Linked DNA regions of Homo sapiens: region 1 is reported to be linked to region 2. Evidence: microRNA targets listed by miRTarBase, many of them from high-throughput screens and not tested one by one. Region 2 holds a microRNA gene; the other region holds the end of a gene's coding sequence.
What was found. Region 2 holds the annotated microRNA hsa-miR-6812-3p (CCGCUCUUCCCCUGACCCCAG, at 1,317-1,337, shown strand). A microRNA usually pairs through its seed, bases 2 to 8, with sites in the 3' UTR of a target mRNA and lowers its output. Matches are read on the target gene's strand: a 7mer-m8 pairs with bases 2 to 8, a 7mer-A1 pairs with bases 2 to 7 and ends in A, and an 8mer does both.

Region 1: the mRNA of IYD is a reported target of hsa-miR-6812-3p. Seed matches in the 3' UTR shown: 7mer-A1 at 2,050-2,056.

Annotation. Positions count from the first base shown.
Region 1 is chr6:150,397,678-150,401,080 of GRCh38, reverse strand. IYD (iodotyrosine deiodinase) reads right to left here. Exons shown (of 5, transcript NM_203395.3): 5 at 1-3,026. The coding sequence ends at 2,844. Among named protein-coding and RNA genes, the nearest start is that of IYD, 30 kb to the right of the region's middle.
Region 2 is chr20:45,424,237-45,427,639 of GRCh38, forward strand. MIR6812 (microRNA 6812) reads left to right here and starts at 1,274; the gene lies at 1,274-1,337. PIGT (phosphatidylinositol glycan anchor biosynthesis class T) reads left to right here. Exons shown (of 12, transcript NM_015937.6): 10 at 1-145; 11 at 260-343; 12 at 1,338-2,005. The coding sequence ends at 1,590. LOC105372631 (a long non-coding RNA gene) reads left to right here and starts at 3,186. Exons shown (of 4, transcript NR_159957.1): 1 at 3,186-3,309.

The sequences.
Region 1 (3,403 bases), not on the chromosome of region 2:
TACCATGTTAGTTCTCGCTCACACTCTCCAAACACACACCTATACACACACCTTTTTTCCTGGAGTAAGTTGTCAATATGATGCTTCATCTCTCAGTACTTCAGCAGGCATCACTCACATCACTAACAATATCACCTACCACCAGATCCACATTCAACATTCCCAGTTGTCTTTTATACCTATGAGATTTTTCCTAAACCAAAATCCAATCAAGGCTTACGCTTTGCCTTTGGTTGTTGGGTCTCTGGTTATCTGCAACAGAGCTCAGACTTTAACAGGCATGCAGATCACCTGGGCATCTTGTTAAAATGCAGATTTTGATTCTGGATGTCTAGGTGAGGCCTGAGAGTCTTTGATTCTAACAAGCGCCCAGGTGGTCCCAATGATGATACAGGCCCAGGACCACTCTTTGAGTAGCAAGGACAAGACAGTCCCCCTCTTATTCTTCCCACAGTGACACTCACTCCTTAAATAGTCCAGGCCTATTTTTTTGTAGAATGATACACATTTTGGTTATTCCACCATGCCATTAACTTCTTTATCCTCTGTATTTACTGTAAACTGAAAATTAGGTGTAAGACTCGATTAGTTTCCATTGACATCTTTGGAAGGAATACTTCATAATTCATCCCAGCAGGAACACTTAATGTCAGTTATCCTACCATTAATGGTGTGCTAGGACTTTGTCACTTGGTTAAGGTGATGGCCAGATGTTTGCATTATAATTTTTAAAATAAAAATTTGAAGAGTGCCTGCAAAGAGTGAGAACCATGGGGCAATGGCAATCGATAACTCCAATGCTTCAGAAGTAAATAACCTGGCTGCAGATCAGATTGATAACACGAACTACACAGAGAAAAAAATCTTTCAAGTTGGTCTCTGATGGGGTAAGGCTGACTCCCTGCAGGCCAACTCCATCTGGCCCTGCAGCTGCCCCTGAGCCACAGGAGGGCTTCTCTGAAGAGGAGGGAGTCCCTCACCCACCCACGTTACATTTGTTCACCTGAATCCCAAGCAGGGCTGCCTTGCAGTGACAATGGTTTCTACCACAGTAAGGGCCCCCACCATTTATGAATGTTAACCATGTACCGAGCAGCATGCCAAACCCTATGAAGTAGGTGCCATGGACGGAATGTTTGTGTCCCCCGCAATTCATATGTTGAAACCCTAACCCCCAATGTGATGGTATTAGGAGGGGGTCCTTTGGGAGGTGATGAGGTCATAAGGACGGGGCCTCATGATGGGATTAGTACCCTTATAAAAGGCATGCCAGAGGCTCTAACCCTCTTTCTACCACGAGGACACAATAAGAAGTCAGCAGTCTGCAACCCAGATCAGGGTCCTCACCAGCACCTGACCATGAGGGCACCCCGACCTTGGACTTCCAGCCTCCAGAACTGTGAGAAACAAATTTCTGTTGTTTATCAGCCACATACTCTATGGAAATTTTTTATAGAGAGAGTTTTCTCAAGGAAAATGAGGACAAGAAGAAGAAACGCACAGGGAAAGGGGAAAAAGAGGTGAGTAGAGTTGCTTGATGAGAAATCATCCAAGCTGTAAGAGTTTGCCTCTGTAAATATGACACCCCTGGGAGGACGACAGAAGGTGATGGGTGAAGACTACATCTAGCATTCCCAACCTGGCAACTGTGACCCTATCAGTCCCAAACAGCTGTGCTGTCATCTGGAGAATAGGGGTCAGTGTGTTTCAGGGGTTGGGGTAGAAGAGAAGGGAGACACTGTGGGTGCTATGTATGGTAAGCAGCTCTCTTTAAGAAGAAGAAAGCAAGTGCTGATTTGTAGTGGTTGTGATGTAAACTCTCCCACCATGGGCAATTTCAAGCTATGAATGTTTAATAACTGTCTTGCAAGATTCTTGAGTATTGAGCAGCTTCTATGAACTGCTTACAAGTCAGATCTACCAAACCACTAGGCAGTGCAACTGACCGTTTACATGCCAGCCAGGCCCGTGCGACCCAAGGGTACCCTGTCCTGTTCTGTGAAGGTGACATTTTAGTAACTTTGTTTTTGTTTTTTTTGAGACAGGTTCTCGCTCTGTTGCCCAGGCTGGAGTGCAGTGGTGGCATCTCAGCATCTTGACTCACTGCAATCTCTACCTCCCGGATTCAAGCAGTTCTCTTGCCTCAGCCTCCTGAGTAGCTGGAATTACAAGTGCATGCCCAGCTAATTTTTTGTATTTTTAGTAGAGATGGGGTTTCACCATGTTGGCCAGGCTGGTCTCGAACTCTTGAGCTCAGGCAATCTGCCCACCTCGGCCTCCCAAAGTGCTGGGATTACAGGCATGAGCCACTGCGCCTGGCCATGTTTTAGTAACTTTGATGGTTACTTATTCAAAACTAGCAGAGTGTCCCTGAAGTTTGGTAAAAAAAAAAAAGTAGTTCTCAAAAATTAGTGTCTAAAAGCCACCAGAAATCAGAGAACAGGAGACCATTTGATTAATCTAAATTTAAATTCGAGTCATCATGTAGCTGAATTCTTGGGACTATGGTAAATTTCTGATTGTCTCCTCTATGTGAGTTTTTTAAAAATAAAAGAAAAAAGCCAATAGTGATTGTCTAGAATAACTTTTAAAATGTAAAAACCCGGGCATGTTCTTTGTAAAGTGTTCATGCATTTCCAAAGTGGATAAGAAACAGGATTTATGGGACTGGAAGTGCCACAGAGTGTGGAGAGGCTTCTTGACATAGTGTGGCCACCTGAGAAGAGCAATGAGGGGACCTGACACCTGGAGAAAGAGCAGCCAAGAGACCCAAGAGGAGCAGGCGAGAGGCTCAGGGAAAAGCAGGGGCGCCATCTCCCTGCCACTCCCTTGGGGGGCCCTGCCTACACTGTCACCATGATCTGGTCCAGAGGTTTGCGCTTGAGGTCAGGCACCGTGGCCTCCTTGCTGGGGTACCCCACGGGGAGCAGCATCAGCAGCTTTTCATGTGCGGGGCGGCCCAGGAGCACCCTCAGTCGAGGGCCACAGTTGAGAGGAGTGGTAGTGACAGTCACCAGACCTGCATTCTAAAATAAGAGGACAAGAAAGCATTTTAAAGTCAGCAGGCAGAATGACTGCTCTCCCTCTAACCTGGGGACCTTCTTGTCCTGATTATACCTGCTCTTCCTATCATTTCCCTGAAGTTGGGCAGCAAAGAGGCTGCCAGCTCAAGTAATGGCATCGTGAACCTCCCTGCCCCCATCAATCTCCCCACCCCCTCCCTTCTTTTAACCAAGCAGTGGCAAGCTTTTGGAAGAAGAAAAATACTATTATTTTTCATTGATGCTTAAGAAATAGGAATGGTTATTTTACAGAAAAATACTGTAGGAATCCAACTACAGTAGAGGAAAGGCAAAAACAACAGGGAGTTCCTTTTAGCTAAGGGGTTGGTCTGTGTCCTGGT
Region 2 (3,403 bases):
CCCAGGACCGGCTGCAACCCCACCTCCTGGAGATGCTGATTCAGCTGCCGGCCAACTCAGTCACCAAGGTTTCCATCCAGTTTGAGCGGGCGCTGCTGAAGTGGACCGAGTACACGCCAGATCCTAACCATGGCTTCTATGTCAGGTGGGCTCCACCCCCACAGGCCACCTCTCATCCCCCTGACCTACCCTTTCTGCTGCTTACCCCTTGATAGGGCAGCCAGATGGGAACACGGGCCATCTCTCTGCTTCTCTGTAGCCCATCTGTCCTCAGCGCCCTTGTGCCCAGCATGGTAGCAGCCAAGCCAGTGGACTGGGAAGAGAGTCCCCTCTTCAACAGCCTGTAAGTGTGACCACACTCACTGATAACACATCCTCAGCTGCCTGCTGGGCCTTAACACAGGTGACCAGGCTCCTGCAGGGGAGTTCAGGGTAGATGTTACATCTTCCAAAGAGATGTGTAGATTTAATTCAATCCTAATAAAAATCCTGGCAGTCTGTGGAATTTGTGAAGACTTTATAAAATGATTTTAAAGTGCTTCTAGAAGAATACTTTTACTTACAGCCTACATTTACTTCTTGATGCTCTTAAATATTTAATCAAGCACTTATCAAATGCCAAGTGCTTCTGAGAGCACTGAGTGTGCAAGATTAAACAAAACAGACTTGGCCCTGGCCTCCCTTTGCTTACAGTCTAGAAGGAAGATTCTGGTCTAGAGAGTAATGGGGTTAGAGGTTGGGTAGGAATTGATTTACTGGGTTATCTAGGAAGGCTTCATTTAGGAGGTGGCATTTAGGCTGAAACCAGGCTAAGAAAGAAGCAACCAAGCAAAGGCGGGGCCCCTTTCCTCCACCTCAACACCAGGCGTCTCTCTTTCTTTCCTTTCTCTCTCTTTCTTTCTTTCTCTTTCTTTCTTTCTTTCTTTCTTTCTTTCTTTCTTTCTTTCTTTCTTTCTTTCTTTCTTTCTTTCTCTTTCTTTCTTTCTTATTTATTTTTTATTTTACTTTAAGTTCTGGGATACATGTGCAGAACATACAGGTTTGTTACATAGGTATATATGTGCCACGGTGGTTTGCCGTACCCATCAACCCATCATCTAGGTTTTAAGCCCCGCATGCATTAGGTATTTGTCCTAATGCTCTCCCTCCCCTTGCCCCCCGCCCGCCGCTCCCCTTTATCAGGTTTAGAGATTGAGCTATGCCTTCTGTTGAAAGGTTTTGAGCCTAAGAGAACATTGGAAACACTGTGTTGCATTGCCCAATACTGCCGGAATGAGGATGGGGTGAGATGGGGAGGAGCAGCCAGTCCTGTCTCACCGCTCTTCCCCTGACCCCAGGTTCCCAGTCTCTGATGGCTCTAACTACTTTGTGCGGCTCTACACGGAGCCGCTGCTGGTGAACCTGCCGACACCGGACTTCAGCATGCCCTACAACGTGATCTGCCTCACGTGCACTGTGGTGGCCGTGTGCTATGGCTCCTTCTACAATCTCCTCACCCGAACCTTCCACATCGAGGAGCCCCGCACAGGTGGCCTGGCCAAGCGGCTGGCCAACCTTATCCGGCGCGCCCGAGGTGTCCCCCCACTCTGATTCTTGCCCTTTCCAGCAGCTGCAGCTGCCGTTTCTCTCTGGGGAGGGGAGCCCAAGGGCTGTTTCTGCCACTTGCTCTCCTCAGAGTTGGCTTTTGAACCAAAGTGCCCTGGACCAGGTCAGGGCCTACAGCTGTGTTGTCCAGTACAGGAGCCACGAGCCAAATGTGGCATTTGAATTTGAATTAACTTAGAAATTCATTTCCTCACCTGTAGTGGCCACCTCTATATTGAGGTGCTCAATAAGCAAAAGTGGTCGGTGGCTGCTGTATTGGACAGCACAGAAAAAGATTTCCATCACCACAGAAAGGTCGGCTGGCAGCACTGGCCAAGGTGATGGGGTGTGCTACACAGTGTATGTCACTGTGTAGTGGATGGAGTTTACTGTTTGTGGAATAAAAACGGCTGTTTCCGTGGTTCTTTGCCTCTTGTCCTTGAGTCCTGGGAAGAGCTGGGGACTGGGGATTGTTTGCTGAGTGCCTGAACAGGACCTCCTACCCTATGCCTGCAACCCCCTCCACAAAAAACAAAAAACCCTACCTCCTCCCACCTGGCCGGAAATTTCTTCTCCTGATCTGCTCCCCCTGTCCTCCCCATCCCCATCTGATTGTGATTCCCAGAACTCCCCGGGTTGTTTGGGAGTGTTTCTGAAAGCATAATCCATGGCCATGGAAATGAATCATCCTACTTCTTGGGGGCATTGAGAGTCAGTCCACATCAGCAAGGGTAGAGTGGAGAGGTGGGAGGGCTCTGGGTGGTGGGTCTCTAACTGTAGTGTGCATCAGAGTCACTGGGGGCACTTGTGAAAATAATGTATGTTCCTGGGGTCCAGATCCTACTAATTCAGTTGGTCTGGGTGTGGCCCAGACTTTGACTTTTTAGCAGGCTTCTCAGGAGCTCCTGCTGTGCTCTGTCCTCAGACCACCCCCAGGCTTTGAAGCCAGGCTCATTGGATTGAAGCCCGCCCCGCCCACCTCCCTTGCTGGTTACATAACCCTGGATTTCTGTAAAACAAGCCTTTAGGCGGTTGCCTCCCACTGCCCTCATCTTCTGTCTTTTCCTCTGGCACACTTGGCATCAACTGTGTGTTATTTGCAGTTCCCCCCACCTCCTACCCCACTCAGTTCTCCCATCATAGTGGTTTGGCCTAGAATGCCCTATTCCACCAACCATGCACACCTCTCAACTGCCTGGTTCCCTCATAAAACCAGATGAGGCTGGCCGGGCACGGTGTCTCATGCCTGTAATCCCAGCACTTTGGGAAGCCAAGGTGGGCAGATCACAAGGTCAAGAGATCGAGACCATCCTGGCCAACATGGTGAAACCCCGTCTCTACTAAAAATACAAAAAAAAATTAGCTGGGCATAGTGGCGCGCGCCTGTAGTCCCAGCTACTCGGTAGGCTGAGGCAGGAGAATCGCTTGAACCTGGGAGGCAGAGGTTGCAGTGAGCCAAGATTGCGCCACTGTACTCCAGCCTGGTGACAGAGTGAGACTCTGTCTCAAACACACACACACACACACACACCCCAGATGAGAAGTTGCTGCCTCCGGGAAGTTTCCCTTGACGTGTCCGTGCCCCACGCCTTTGCTTCCAGATTGCCTTGGACTTAACACGTGTTCCTTATCAGCTGGCTGCTGTCCTTTGACTTCCACCAGATGGTGTGCTTCCTGGAGGCACAGGTTCTGTCTTTCATTAAGACCTGACCCATCTCAGGACATGTAAGTGCTCAATCAGCAAACGCTAAATGTATTAACTGGGTATGGGCTATTCTGGCTTGAGATCTGGGATCCAAGATAGGGATGGGCAAGGGGC